2 separate regions of the Homo sapiens genome follow, and region 2 is linked to region 1. The links come from fine-mapping of genetic effects on gene expression. Tissue or cell type: whole blood. Region 1 holds a variant in brackets; the other region holds the start of a gene. All regions are shown on one strand. Distances are from middle to middle.

The links. PIP is the estimated chance that this variant, and not a neighbour inherited with it, causes the effect.
Region 2: it holds the start of MEF2A, and the variant in region 1 is fine-mapped to the expression of MEF2A in whole blood (TOPMed, PIP above 0.99).

Annotation. Positions count from the first base shown.
Region 1 is chr15:99,708,352-99,716,455 of GRCh38, reverse strand. MEF2A (myocyte enhancer factor 2A) reads right to left here. Exons shown (of 12, transcript NM_001319206.4): 11 at 5,696-5,822; 12 at 1-4,066. The coding sequence ends at 3,685. It also overlaps a transcript of LYSMD4 not described here. Among named protein-coding and RNA genes, the nearest start is that of LYSMD4, 21 kb to the left of the region's middle. The variant C/A (reference allele first, on the strand shown) is at 3,856.
Region 2 is chr15:99,562,021-99,570,114 of GRCh38, reverse strand. It overlaps MEF2A (myocyte enhancer factor 2A), which reads right to left and starts at 4,131. Exons shown (of 12, transcript NM_001319206.4): 1 at 4,011-4,131. RefSeq lists silencers at 3,631-3,680, 4,521-4,960 and enhancers at 2,860-3,833, 3,834-4,809.

The DNA.
Region 1 (8,104 bases):
AGTGCGGGAGACAAACAGTTTACAACAACCTTTAGCATTGTCTTCACCATTTGATAAAAAGTTCACTATTATATTTATTGTATAATGAAGAAAAACAACACATTCAGGGAAAAATTGAGATTAACTTATTTTTCTTAAAAGGTTCATCTCAAGGATGGCAACAAAGTCCAGCTTGTGCCGCCAAACGGTTTTACATGATCAAACCGTGTACAGCTTCTTGTGTGAACTGTTGACTACAAACATTTACCAAATACATAAATCTCTTTTAAAAAAGCCATTTTAAATATAGCAAAGCAGTGTCTTCTTGCACAGCAAAGTGAAGAAAGTTTCTACAGAGAAATAGAAGTTTTACATTTGTAAAATCTTTTTCACATTCTAATCATCTAGCTTAAGATCCAATGCCAGGAGTTTTCAGCTTCCTTATTTACTATGTATTTCTTGTGCGCATGATGGTTAATACAGAAATTATGTTGATGCATTACTAGTTATCCTTCTAGTTAAAGGAAAGGGTAAAACATGTATTGTTCTTGTAGAACAAACCCCTGATTTAGTCTATAACAAAATGGACATAATTGGGCTCAAAAGATGGAGTTTTGATTGGGACCACCTGTGTACACACAACAGTGACTTCCACTCGCGGTGGAGTGGCCATTAGAGTACTGAGGAAGGACAGCTGTTGGAAACTGTACTTTAACCAGTGCAATTTAAGCTTTTTTTGCTTTTGTTCTTTAGTAATAAAATACTTCTGGAGGGATAAAATTTTCTTGCAATGGTGTCTCATACAAAACACGAGTCTAAAAGGGTAAGAAAAGACGGTTCTAAAGCAACACCATTAGCGTCGTCCCCTCTCTAGGCTGGTTTCCACCCAGAGATGTGGATGTGGGTGTGTTCACACGTGGGCGTCTGGGTGAGAGATGTCTGTCAAGTCCATATGCTCCATGCCACACTGGACGTATGGGAAAAAGGTTAACAGTCAAATATTCAGTTCCTGAAATGGAATACATTGTTACTTGGTCAGTGTAATTTAAATACAAACTCCGAGCCTTGAGTAGTAGTATTTTAGAAAACAGTAGTTGTACTGATTATAAACCTGCATAGAAAGAAAGACTATTGAGATACAGTCAGAAAAGCCATCTCATAAGGCACACAAGAAAATAGACAGTAAATGTGAATGTGTTAACTCCTATTCCAATGTACAGCAGAAGTTCATGAACATGCATAAATAATAACGAAGGAATCACTTAACACTTTCAAAGCTATAAATGGTTTACAAAGTGGTAAGGATTATTTTGGAACTTCAGTGTTGGGAGACTGTCTTGTTTGGATTAGGTGTGGCCTTATGAAGAAATGTGCCTGTAAGTAGTTCAGTAAAGTAAGTACATTTTTAAAGAAAAATCCTTTCTGAATAAGAGCCTAATGTCTATACTGAAGAGAGGAGACAGCATGTCATCCTCCTTTTTTTGGCCTCTCTCAAAAGTTACTGCCCAAACTGCCATGAGAACAGAACCTCCAGTTTGCAGCCTGTGGTGCGCAGGTCTCTCCTGCACTGATCATACCTATGTGTCAGTCAGGAAATCTGGCTGATGACTTGTCACAAACAGCAGATGAGGAAAATGTCAAAAGGAACGTAATTTGGGGGGGGGGTGGGGGGGGGGGAACAAAATGTACATAGAAATTGTAGGTAGCTGCTCAATATCATTTAAAATATAAAATAGCAATTTTTAAACCCTTGAGTTTTTTAGGAAAAGGAGTATTTAAAAATCTACAATGAAAGATATACAGGACTTTGAATTTTGCTCATGGCACAAGCCCAGTAAGTGGATGAACTTGCTATCATCCATTAGTTGTCTTCCTGAAAGAATAAGGCCTTGTTCAAAATCCAAGCTGAGGGTGGCACTAATTCCAATTAGAATGGCAAGAGTCATGCCAAGGACCAGCACCCTAAGAGTGTTTCTCCCCGCATACCAAAGCATCACTGCAATGTGCAGAAGAGCTGATAACGGTAGGATTTTGTAACCAGCTGCATCGTTCTGTTTTCAGAGGGTCAAGGAAAAAAGATCCCTTTCCCCATGATTATTTTCCCCTAATCATTTACCACTTATAAAACCTTTGTGCTCATCTACTATTTTGCCATTTTCTCTAATATTAATTAAATTAGGTCAGCTTTTTCTACTACATTTTTTCCTCACAAAAGGCAAGTTTTAAATAATGCCTTACAAAATCTGTTACAACACATTTTATACTTATGCAGGATGAACTTAACACCAATTTTTTTTGCCACTTTGCTATTTATGTACACATACAAAATATATAATGATGCTCAACCCATACAGCACAAAGATTACAATGTAACATCACACATTCACCACCAGTGAGGGGAGAAACCCCTTTATACAATCCTCTGAAAAAACTGGGCTAATAATTAAAATCCAAAGTACAGTATATTTAACAAAATAGTAAATATTAAACAGTGAATACTTAATAAAGGACCTCGCCTTTTCCCCCCAGATTGGCGGCAATCCACAAAAATATACTTTTTAATCTGGTGACCATACAATACATAGGTACTTACATCAAAGGTGATAATATATTTAAGATGCTATATACACAAAGAGTTTGGCTCAACTTTTAATTTACATTTAGAATAAGTGTTCATGGCTTTTTTTTTCCAAGGTTCTGCTTGCAAGATATTTTTGTTTTCCCCTCTTAAAATAAAACTAAAGAGTTAAACCAAGATAAAGCTATTCTCTAAAAAAAAGTTACAACATATAGCTTTGGCTTATATAAATAATTCATAGCAGAATGTGTTCAAAAGTAGTGAATATAATTTTATATATAGTCATCAATTCATAAGGGTGTTTTCTTTCATATAAAATATACATGAGCTAAAATCAGTTTCTTTAATTTTTAAGATATGAATGTAAAAAGAAACTTCTGACATATTCCAATTATAACTTAATATATTAATTTTACTTTGTTAATGCTCTATATTTCTAGGCTAGTATTTTCTGAATATCTCATGCGTGTTTTCTATTCTCTTTCTTTATTAGCTAAAGATCACTTCTTGACCCAATACATTTTTGCACGTGCAAAACAGTTATGTGTGGGGCTTTTTTGTTTTGTTTGTTTTTAATATCAACAGCCCTTTCCCATGCACCCCTTTGCAACAGACACCCATGCCAGGTTGGAAAATATAAATGACATTTTATGTACAGTATTGCTTTCTTGGTTCCTGCTTTTCTACTGCTCTGTTCTACAAAGCATTTTCTCTTAAGTAACTACAGTCACTGCACAGTTAAATAAAACAAGTAGGGGGCCCTCTAGGTTTCTGCAAGCTAGTGTGGGAGAATTATATATGGGTACACGTTTCTCTGCAAAAACTGGTTATCTTTACGAAACAAGTAGTCCAAGGAAGTGCCAGACTTGTCTGTGCCTACAGGGTGCTTTGTCTGCCATGGGACACACATCTGCAGACCTACAAGGAGTTTGCAGGTAAGTGCCTGATTCTGTGTATGTAACACACACCCACACATACACACTCACACCCACATACATATATATGTAAAGGGATATATATATGTATGTACATATAAATATATTTAACTCATGTCCTTATTTACCGATTTAGATATGTAGGGCAGGTCACTGCAGTAACACAAAAGTACAAACATCAGCTTGGAAGCCTTAGGTCACCCACGCGTCCATCCTCATTCGCTTTACAGAAGGGCTTTCTCTGTCCTCAGTGTTTGGGGGTCGGCCAAGCACAATTGGAGAATGGAAGTCGCCCCGTGGATCCTCCCGATCACTGCCATCATAGGAGCTACTAGAGCTGCTCAGACTGTCCACAGGGGAGCG[C/A]CCCATTTCCTGTCGGGGCTGGGGCTGCGGGGGTTGTGGCTGGGGCTGCGGTGGTGGCGGCGGCTGCTGCTGCTGCTGCTGCTGCTGCTGCTGCTGGAAGCCCGATGGGGTCATACGATCCCGAGGAGGTGAAATCGGTTCGGACTTGATGCTGATGTTTTGGTTGGTATTAATGGATAAATTGGAACCCTGAGATAACTGCCCTCCAGCACTGAAGGAAAAAAAAGAGAGAGGTCAGATGGCTTGCAAGTACCTCTGCAAAACTGGGATGATACAGTAGAGACACTGCCTGATGGAAAAGGGCCCAGAGTCTGAAATCTTATCAGAGTTCCCCAAGACTGGTTTGGGTCGTTTCCTTCAGTGCTTGGCACAAAAGGAAATCCCATCTTCCTAGGAGGAAAGAAAACAGTACCGTTGAGCCCTTACGTTACTTGGTTCTGTTACCCACAACGTTGGTACTTTTGCAGCTAAAGTATACAAAACAATGTCAGTGTCTTAATGCTGTGCAGGGACCAGAAAGACAGAGGAACAGCAGCCTCATCTGCTCACCGCCTCTTCTTCCTCAGCATCTGCTCCCCATCTGCTCTGGCCCTGTGACAGGGCACAACATCGCTCATCCTCGCAACACCTCTAAGGTGCAAGTCGCACCATCCCCATTTTCCAGATGAGGAAATGAGGGGCTGGCTGAGAGCAGTAGAGGAGGACGCAAACAGGCTGTTCCCCGGGCCTGGGCTCTGAGCCCTTTCCACTTGCTTTTCCAGGACTATTTTTAGTGCATTCATTTAGGATGCTCAGGACAGGCCTGAGGGCCAAATCCTGTGTAGGCAAATTTCCCTGAGATACTCTGCTGCTTTTTCCATGACATAATTCCTAAGAAGACCACTGACAACAATCCTCACTGTGCAGTTACTTCAGAATGGATGAGGGAAAGGGACTGCTGAGCTCAGGCTCTCTGGGGACTTCCTGGGCAGAGGCTAGGGGCCTGGGGTATTCCTACTGCCCAGAGCACAGGCAAGGCAGCCAGTCTTCATGGAGGCCAGCTGGGTCTGCTATGTTGTCCCCTCTCTTGGGACACTCTCCTCCAACTGCTCCATGGGTCTGCTGTCATCCTGGTTCCACAAAAGCCCTGTTCTTTCTCCCGGCTGTCAGGGATGTCTGGCCTCATCTGGGCGCCACTGTAAATCCTCTTTGCTTATATCCTTACACCCTGCCCATACGGAACATTCTCTTTGTGAATGAGGTTTGGTGTGTGCATTGGGCTGGGATCAGTCACACAAATCCTATGGAGCCTGACTGATATATAAGACACCCTGTCCCCAGTTTTCCTTCCCTGTGGCCCAGGGAGAAAGCAAAAGCTCCAGCTTGTCTTCCTATTCTTGTCTACAGATACTCACCAAAGCAGTCAATGGCAAGGGTGGCAGGGAGGCCTGAATGCCTACAGGCTGCCTTTCAAGCAGTGCAGCCAGAGGCAGGTGCTTGGGAGCAGGGGTGCAGTAGGCAGCTTCATCACTGGTCAGAGGGCAGAAGGATGGTGCATGCGGGTGGTATCTGTGCCTTCAGACCCCTTCAGATCCTGGTTGAGTCTCTCTACCTCAGGATGTCCCTATGGGAGAAGCCTTGCTCCCCAAATCCCTTCAAGGAATGCCTAGTTTGTCAGTATCCAAGCTACTGTCTAGAGCCATGTAAGAAAATATTTTCTCCCGACACTTGTATCTACCTGAAAAGGAATCATTACAGGATTCCTCACACGAAACTCAACAGAGCAAAAGGCTGTCACTGATAGGAAAAGAGAGTGTGTAGGCCAGGAGTAAAGATGCAGGGAAAACTTCTAGTTACTCACACAAGAGAGCTGAGGGCTGCTTGTCCTAGGTGGTGCTGCTGCCAGGCCGACACCTGTCCCAGCGACAGCATTCCTGGCGAGTTGAAGCCTTGAAGGGCTGACAGGTCAGCGCTGGTCAGTGAATAATCTACAAAGGAAGACAAGAGGGCTCTGCATATGATGGAAGGTCCATACGGAATCTATTTTTTACGTAGCTACTGCAAAAGTTCCTACATTGAGGCCAGCCATGCTGGCTCATGCCAGTAATCCCAGCACTTTGGGAGGCCAAGATGGGCGGATCACTTGAGGTCAGGAGTTTGAGACCAGCCTGGACAACATGGTGAAACCCCGTATCTGCTAAAAATACAAAAATTATCCAGGCGTGGTGGCGCATGCCTGTAGTCCCAGCTACTTGGGAGGCTGAGGCAGGAGAACTGCTTGAACCCGGGAGGCAGAGGCTGCAGTGAGCCGAGGTAGCACCACTGCACTCCATCCAGCCTGGGCAACAGACTTCCTCTCAAAAAAAAATAAAATAAAAAGTTCCTACATTGAGAGAAGCCAGATACTTCACAACAAAACAACATACATGTGGGTCTAAAATCCGCAAAATCTTTTCTTGGAAGATTTACAGGATCTAGCAATATTTCTTTGTCTGGGATGATTCAAATAAGAGGCCATCATTAAAGAGTGTTCTGTACAATTGTTACTTTAAATATGCCTGCCACTACCCTTTGGAACAAAGAGAAACACTCAACCTCAACCAGAGTGAGTTTGAATCAGCAAGTCTTAATGAAGCAAGGGGTTGGGGGACAGGGAATAGGGGACAGGAAAGACAGAATCCCTACATGGGGTGCCAAGCTCAGTGACATCATTACACAATTAGTAAGCGCATTTGTTTAAAGTACCTAGACTGTCGCAAACTCCCTGACAGCATGCAAGAGTTTCAACTTCATGAAAAAACTCGGTGTCCTAGAGTATACCCAGCTCATATCATATGAATGCTTCAGTCGTAATCACTGGGACCAAGATTTAGGACGTTAGTTATCACTCACACGGGGAGTTATTTCAGCTCATCATTAACACTTGTCTTTCTCACTTGGTTCCAAAGAGAGGTGGCAAAACTCTTCTACTTTTATCTTCTTTCTCATGTCTCAAGAGAGGTGTTTAAAGAAATTGGTCTTCCTAGTGAATTAACATTTTAAAAAAGGAACGGAGTTGAAGCGACACAGCTGGTGCTCAGGGCTGTCCTGACTCTGCCCTTGTCATTCTATACACTCCCATGGGCTGGGGCAAGGACCCGTCACACTGACGCCTTCCCCAGTGCTCCCTCCGGCCCACAGTCTCCTTCGACCTCTAGATCTTTTAAACGACCTAGTGCCATGTCCATTTGGACGCCACTCCAAACGCCACACATCTGACATGGCCCATCCTTTCCTGCAAACCTGTTCCTCCTTAAGTACTCTTAGTACATGGCACCAACATGCACCCAGCAGCTCGTGCAGAAGCCCATGGGTGTTATCCTTGCTACTTCCCTTCCCTCTCACTCCCAACATCAATTTCCAGGTCTGAGCAATTCTATCTGCTCTCTCTCAAGCCTGCCCAGGTCTCACCATCTCTACTGCCACCTCTCTAGTCTATGCTATCAGCACCCATTGCTTGGACCACTACAGTAGCCTCTGATGTGGCTTCCTGGCATTGCCTTTTAACCCTATATACAGCAAAGACATCTTTTTAAAATAACAAATATGGTCATGGCACTCCTCTACTTCAAAAGTTTTTTATGGCTCCCCAATGCTCTCCGGACAGTTTCCAAAATCCTTGACATAGTCTACAAATCATTACTTACCTCTCTAGTCTCAATTCTAACCACCCACGCTCTGTCCCCATTCCTTCAGCCCCGTCCCGCCCGCAAACTCCTAGCCTTTGTACAGGCACACCCTCTCCCAAGAGCACTCTGCCTCCTCTGCCTGGCTGAGTCACGCATGTTCCTTCCTGTCCGAGCTGAGACACAGCCCTTGACACAACTGCAGCAGCTTATCCCTAGAGCTGTGTGTCTTGTGCCTTCCCCCCAGGCTTCACTGCTGACTGCACTCCTGCATTTCCAGTGCCTGGCACAGTGCCTGCCACACAGCAGCTGCCTGATAAATATTTGCTGAATAGATGTGGAAATAAGTTAAAAACAACATGGTAAACTTCAAACAGAGTAAGTGTTACGAGAAAGAGAAGAAAGATAAAGTCGGTCAAAAGGTGGCATGAGACTGACGCTAAGCGACTGATGATTTTGAGAGCCTGCCTCCATTTTTATATGCTTTGGTAATTTCTTTTATACTTTTAAAAAATAAATTCCCAATTCAATGGCATTTCTAAAAATAAGTATAGTGGAATTTCTAAGTATACTGAAAAACCTGTAATGAAACGGTCAGTAAACCA
Region 2 (8,094 bases), 150 kb after region 1:
TGCTTATGATTTCATCTCGACTAAGATAATTAATAATTAAAATATTAAATTCAGTAAATATCAATTAAATTCTGTAAATATAAATATTATTAAAGTATAAAGCATCTATATAAAAATTTAGTACTTATTAAATAAGTACCAACCTATATCGTGTGCTATGTGTAAGATTTACTAATTAACAAATGGATTTACACTCTTAATTATAATAAACTGGACACAAGGTCCATTTATTATAAGGCACACAGATAAACTATACACGAGAAAATCATTAATTTCACACCAAATCAAAGTATTTTAAAAATTACAGATTAACTAAAGTTACTTTAAAATATTAAAATAACCTTCAATATTAAAATATTTAAAAACTTTTCTTCAGAAATTAAGCTATTTTAAAATACCTATTCAAGGTAGATTACAGAAGTATTCTTCTAACTTTAAATTTCAAATACTATATCTTAGAGACCACTCCCACAGTCAATCCCTAAAAGACAGAATTCACTGAAGATTGGGAAACTATTTATATTTAACTTGAATCTTTAGAAAAATATTTGGGGAGATTATGGAGATTAGAAACAAACTATGGTTGAAGATCAAAATTCTAATGTTTTAAAACAGCCAATTAAGCGTTTTATGTATAATCTGACAATGAATTTAAGATGCTGGGATATTTTATCCAAAACAAACACATTAAGCATTCTCTATTGATACATTATACGAAATCCTTTTGGTCACAAACACTAAACGTATGGGTACTGGGCAGGGTACCTACATAATCTTCAGAGGAAAGAAGAAACAAAAGCCAGAAGGGATGCAGGGAGATCAGGCAATACGCATTTTCGCACATGAAGCTTCACGCAGTGTGTTAGAACTTTTACACTCGCTATCTCATTTAATTCCAACACGGGGCAGGTAGTGTAATTCTATCTCATTTTACAGGAGATATCTCAACTCTGTCAGCAGTGGAGCTGGATCTGAATCAAGATCTGACTACAGAGTCAAGCAGCCTTCCTTTACTGGGGCTTGCAAATCAGCATATGTTAAAAGCATTCTCTTGCACGAGGTTATCCAGCTTAAAGGGTGATCTGATTTCCATATTTACACTTATTATTTAAACATTAGGAGAGAAGGCACTCACTTCTCCATTTACTAAGAATCCACAGATTTTCTTTCTTATCTAGAAAAAAGAAATAGTGATCATTTTTGGTCCACAAATGGTTTTCTCATAGTGTCATCGCATAAAAGAAAACTTCAGCTAGACTTTGAAACATTCATATGTACCATGAGTAACCGGGGTATGGTCTGATGACAACACAGAATATGTGAAATTAGAAATGCCCCCAAATCCAGGCCCATCATCATCGTATATTACACTACATTCTTCTTGCCAGACTAAAAGCAGCAAAGGGAGGAAAAAAGATGGTTTTCCAAACTGACAAGCATGCTATTTTTCAGTAACAAATTTGTTCATGGCTTCTTCCTCCTAAATCAGAACACAAATCTACTGAAAAGATTTAGCTAGACTATTTCAAACTCCAAAATCATATTCTAATAAACATTTCCATAATTTCTTAACCACCCTCAGAATATAATTCAATATTCCTCTTTTTGGTAGCCAATTAATGGATGACACTGCTATTGCTGGAATATTAATAAAATTAATATTAACCCACAATGCATGATGGAAAAGGCAAATTGTAACGAAATTGCTTTGAAAAACATAACATCACCATTTGAAACAACTCAACCTTTTTAAGAGATTATTTCCAACTGCATTTACAAAAAAAAATCCTTGTCACACATACCCATATGAAAACAAACTCTAAGAATACAGAAGGAAATTATTCTCAAACCATAATTCAACATGGTGACATTACAATTATTTCTGGGTGTCAATAAGCTATTTTCCTTCCACTGAACACCCCCCAGAATTTAATTTTTTAAAAAACTTTTGAAGGCAAGTAAAGTGTAATTTTAACACTTTTGTTCTAATATGAAATCAAACCACAATTTTATATATAACCATAGTGTGAATTAAAGGAAATAGGTAAGCAAATAATTGCGTTTAGAGAGGTCACCATTACTTCACAGTCACTGTTTTCACTAAGTAGCTACTGGAACCACACTCTTCAACAAAACTGTTAATCTAGAGTCTACAAACATTCAAATCACCAGTTTTAGCTCTTCAGAGTACTTTTGATTATTGTAACACCATTATCACAACTTTTTGCAACAATGCTCACTGAGAATTAAAATAAAGGTGATTCTATTGTCAATGTGTCACCATATATAACAAATACTGATCTTAATGTTTTATGATATACAGGTGTGTGTTTATGACATTTAATATAAACTAATCTAAATCAGCATCTGCTTTAGTGAAAACTCTTGATTCCCTAAAACAAAAGTTGTAATTTACAGAAAAAGAAATGGAGACTGAGCTCTCCAAAAATACACACACACACACACACACACACACACACACACACAGTACATACAAAAGCCATAAAGGCACAATGCAGTCATTTTTATCCTCACTTCCTAAATTCATATTAAAAGAAATGTCATTTTTGTATGTTTAAAAAAGAACTATTTTGTTTACCTTTTCCACAGACTGTTCAAGAACTGCCAAGGTAACACAGATTCTAAAACTGACAACTAGAGTACTTAGCAGTTGCCAAAACAACACAGCTGGATTCTTAAAGGGAAAGTACTCTTGGGTAATGTACACCTAATTACAGCTTTAGAGAACCTCCTCTTCATATAGTAATAGATGATACAAGACACATGGGAAACATACTGTGCTAAAAACCCGAAAAAATGTTAAGACAATGTTTGTTTAAAAATACATATGCTATTGTTAACACATCACAGCAGGCCTTTCTAATAGGGCATTTATTGGAATCCCAATCTCACTGTAAACTAAAACGCAGGTTAACACTATGTTATATTCAAGCTACACACGGTTCCCTGCTGGACCATAACAGGAGGCTCGCTTCACAGCTCCGGAATCTATTTCGGATGTGAGCAACAATTCTATAGTTACACTTTTAAAGAAAAACTGTTTTCTTATTCAGGATTGCTCACCTTTTCCAAACTTGTTTGCACTATCTCACTTACTTTAACCCTCACAGCTCAAAGGCATGAAATCGAGCCAAAAAGCAAAGTTTCTAACACAAAAAATATTTTCTGCGAGCTGGGATCTAGCCGGATGGCAGGGGTTCAGCCAGCGGTTCCCTGTGCAGCCCCTCTGTCCCCGCGACGTCTCCCCGCACGATCGGGCGTCCGCAACCGCAGGTGTCCGCCCCAAACACCGACCCCGCCACTGACATCTACACACTCACAGAATTCGTACCTAAGCGTTCCACCCCGTTAGACCAATCTTCTCCCAAAGCAGAAGTGGGGGAACTTCTTCAAGTCCAACAGGGCAGAAGGCCCCCCGCACTTGGGGCTAATCCCTTCGGGGAGACCCCCGGGCTTGGAGGGAAAAGGGGAAGGAAAGGGCCCTCAGAGCGCACCTTCTCCGGGGTCTCCCGAGAACTCCTTCAACTTTCAAGGAGGCGACGTCCACCACCGCCCCCCGGCCCCAAGGGGTGCGCGCCCGGGGAGGCTGCTCGCCACCAGCCCGCGCGACTGAGCTCCCCTCGGCCCGCCCAGCCGAGCCCCATCCAGCCCCACCGGCCCGCCCTCAGGGCACCCCGCCCCCACCTCCCCGGGCGCCTAGCTCCTCAGCGCCGACCCCGACCCGACCACCCCTCGCCGCCTCCCAGCACCCTACCCGCCTCCCAGCACCCTACCCGCCCCGCCAATGCGCGAACGCGACCCTGGCCCCCTCCAAGCCGGACACGGCCTCGTCCAGGGGTCCCCGGAGCCCCCCGGGCGACCCTCTCGGCCGCGCCGTCCCCCGCCCCAGCACCTCCACCCCAACCCCTACTCGGTCCCCTAAGCGAGACGCCGCCCCCCTCCAGCACTACCGGCGTCGCGGACTGAGCCCCGCTGCCCGCGGCCCTCACCGTATCTCCGGAGCAGCTGGCGGGCGCGCACACGCCGCAGCCCGGGCCCGCCACCAGCGCTTCGCGCCGCCCGGAGCCGCCTCTTTCAGCCCGGGACTCGCCGGGACATCCGCGCACGGATCCCCACACCGGGGCTATTTTTAGGAGACAAGCCTCGGCCAGACCGGAACTCGTTCTGTGCTGCGCGTGCGCACTACCTCCGCCGCCTCGGTGTCCCTCCGCAGCCCTGCCTCCCCTCCCTCCTGGGTTCCCTTCCTCGCTTCTCCCCATCAGTTTCTTTTCAGGACTGAATTATCCTCTCGGTGGGTTCTAGAGTAATTGGAATGGGAAAGACAAGGGTAGGGCAAAGAGAGTCACGGTGCTTGGAAGCGGGCGCTATTCCACAAGGACGTGGGGGCGGACTATGTTTTTCCGGGTGGGTGAGGAGACGATCACCTGGCACAGGAAGAAGATGACGGCGGCTTGGCGCCGGGGCCGCGGGTTGGAGCTCGCTTTCCTCTGAAGGACCGTGTTCCCCTGGAAGGGATACTGGTCACTTGATGAGGGCCCGGGCGCCTCCCAGGGCGGGGCGGCCCGGCGGCGTCGCGCCCTGCCGCCCCCGCTCCGCCGCTCAGCCGCCGCCACCTCCCTGACCAGCCCCCGGGAGCCCAGGCCGGGAGCGGCCCGGTGACGCGGCGCGTGGCAAATCGCCGCGCGTGGCCTCCAGGGCAGCCAACCCGGGCGGTGGGGCGGCGCGGCGCGACGGGACTGGGCGGGGCTCCCGGGGCGGGGGCGGGGCGCGAGGCCGGCTGCCGCCCGGAGTCCGGGGCCGGGCGGGTCCTTCGGGACGCCCGGGTCAGCCTCCTCCCTCCCTCCCTCGAGGCGCCCTTGGCCTCCCCGGGTGTCGGCTCGCCACGCCCGCATTGTGGCCAGGGCCGCACCTGTGCTCGCCCCGGGGCACGGGCAGGTCACCCTCAGGAGCAAGCACAAGGGGACTCTGGGACCCGGGCCCGGAGAGAAAGGGACTTGAAGGGGTCTCGAGGGCGAGAAGGCCCTTTCGGACTGGACAGCCGAGCTCCCCAGGTCCCAGGACAGTAGCAACCTCCTTATCGTGACTTAATAGTTTCTAGGATGCCTGGGGCGGTGAACTATGTGATGGACATTTTGCATATGACAGCTTATGTAATACTTACAAGGCCCCATGAAGCAGATTCAGTTTCTATTCCCATTTTACAGATGAGGAAAGGGAAGCTGAGCGCTAAAGTGACCTGTCAGGGTCACAGCTTCAGAGTAGGGCCCTGAGGACTTGAACTCCTGACCACTCTGCATGTTGCCTTTTCTGAGATAGGTGCAAAGGGGATAGGCTTGGGACAGCTGTTGTGTTTTCTGGGGCTACTGATTATGTTTATCGAGGTCTTTAGGAGATGAGCCATTGTTGGCCCTCTCATCCTGAAAGCCGCTCACCTCTGAAGAGTTTTTCGGGGCCACAGTGCCTGCATGTGCCCCCAGAGGTGCCTGTGTAATGGACACGAAGCCAAATGGTTGTTTGCATTTGAAGATGAGAAATTCAATCCCGCAGCACTTAAAACAAAGTGGTTGGGGTGGGTGAGCAGATGAGCAGAGGCTGTGAGTGGAGGAACTGGGAAGTTACAAAGGAAGCCAGAGACTGGCTGGCTTCCTCCCTCAAGGACAACGGGGCAATGTGCTGGGGAGAGCCCAAAACAAAGGCGGCACATAGACAGCAGACGCCAGAAAATAAACCTGGAGCTCTGCTCAGAGCTCCACAACACCAGTGTTCAGGGGAGCCAGCAAAAGGAACTGCAGGGAGGTTTTTAAAACATGTCAAAATGTGGTGTAAATCAGCAAGTCATGTGGAAATGCATGCTTTTTAACCTGCCAGAAGCTGCAGAGCCGGCTGGATTTGGCTCTTCTGCTCCAAGAGGACGAGAAGAGTTTAATACTTATCCTTTAAAACTTAGGGTCTGGAGTGGGGGCACAGTGATCAGTGGCCCTCTCCTTGCCACCTGCTGTCACCCTGGAAGAAGAGGCAATGAAAACAGACTGTTCCAAAAGATGTTTTCACCCTTATTGCTCCACTCCGGCTCCCACCCTTCCAGAAATTGAGCCTCCTGAGGCACAGAAGACTCAGCTCAGACTGCCCAGCCCTTACCCATTCCAATGCTATTGTTACCCTCAAAATGTCAAGCAGAGAACTCAACTATGAGTCCAGCCACAGCAGAAATGAAAAGAGTGTTTGCATCACCTTAAAGAGCACCTCTCTCCCCACCACTCTGCATGTCAAAGCCCTTGTCTGAGAATTGCAGGCAGTGGTAAGAAGGAAGGAAGGAAAGGAAGGAGAGAAGGAAAAGTGGAAGGCTAAGTTTAAGAATTGTGGAGCACAGCTATTAGCAGAGCACAATCACTGTTATTTGTAGTAAAAGCAACCAATTTTAGGAAATTGCCACAGCCTCTGTTTCAGCTGTTGAAAACCTATACCTGAAGTCTAGCGTCTCTAGCAACTTCGAGCGCTCAGAAAGACCCTGTGCCGAGCACTTACGTGTGCCACTGGCTTGGAGGGAACTGAGGAGCAGCATCTGTCAGTCTTTCCCCTCTGGCCTCCTTAAAGGCACTCAGGGGTCCAGATGTTTCTGAGCTGCAGGGACTGTGCACTGGGCCAGGCACTGAGATACAGAGGTGAGAAAGAGCAGCCCTTTCTTCAAAGGGGCTGGCAGGCCGTGGGGAGGATACACCTTAAAACACAACCCATCATGAGGGGTTTCCTAGAGTGCAGGAAGAGCACAGATGATGAGTGTCTAAGGAGGGACAAGAATTAGGGTAGGCTTCTTAGAGGACATAATGCCCACAGTGAATCTGGAAAACCTCCTGGTAGGATGAAAAAAGGGCCCTCACTGTGTCTTGATGAGAAGAATAATGCTCAAGCTGCCTAGAAGCCAAAGGAACCCCTGACGACTTGGCCAGCTTCTCCCTCACCTCTTCTTCCTGACACCCCACTTTCTCCATTCAGAAATTTGAGAAGCTTCTCTGTACACACCAGCCCGTTTCCTCCTGTCTGCAGGGTAAACTCTGCATCAAGTCAATCCATCAAGTCTCCACTTAGGCATCATTTTCTCTAATATGGGGTTTTACTCAACGAATAGTGTATTTCTTTTTGTATGTCTGTTTCCTCCCTTTAGAGAGTGAGCTCCTTGAAGACTAAAACTGTAACTTATTCTTTATTGTATTCACTGTGTCTAGCACAATGCCTGGAATGTCCTAGAAAATCAAATAAATGTTTCTTAAATATTTATGAGCAGACCTTAGGCAGAGGGAGCGCTGTGTGCGGGGACCTCGAGTGTGGCTCTGAGACCCGACAGCTAGCACAGTGTGCCTGGAGTCTGCATTGAGTACTGGGAAGCAGCTAAAAGAGTAGCTGGGAATGAGATGGCGCAGATCATTAACATGTCAAGATCAAGCCATTTGGATTTTATTCTGAACCCCTGACAGATTTTAAGCAGGTGAGGAGCTTGAGCTATTTGGCATTTTAGAAAGACTACTTAGGGAGTAGTGGTTGGTGGGGAGAGCAAGCCTGGAGGCAAAACAACCAGTTAGGAGGTACTGATGTTGTCAGACCCCCTCCCGCCCTCATCTCCAAAGATCTTCACAAAGTTCCCACACATGCTGATGACTTCCTGTGTGTCTGTGTTTGAGAGCATGCTCTAGCTTAGAGGGCTGGTCTTCGTAGATAAATATCCCAGCTTCCTCAAAACTCAGGAAGACATTTCTGAGGCATGCTCCCCCAAGTCTCTTGTGGAGGGATGGGATGTCCCAGTAGATTGGGCACCCATTGACAGCAGTGGTGACCTACCCATTTGCACACTTCTGTTACCTCTTCTCCTTTCCCCTCTCTCACTTCCTGGGATCACCTTCCAAACACTCTACCTTCACCAGAATCTTTGGGAGTCTACTTCTCAGGGGACCTATTTGATGCCGATGCTACCTGAGATAAGAAAGAGGACCTGAATGAAGGCAGTTTCCTGATACAAATGAGAAAGCAGGGGCAAAATAGAAAGCTGTTTAGAAGTCACAACTCACTGGCTTGCTGACC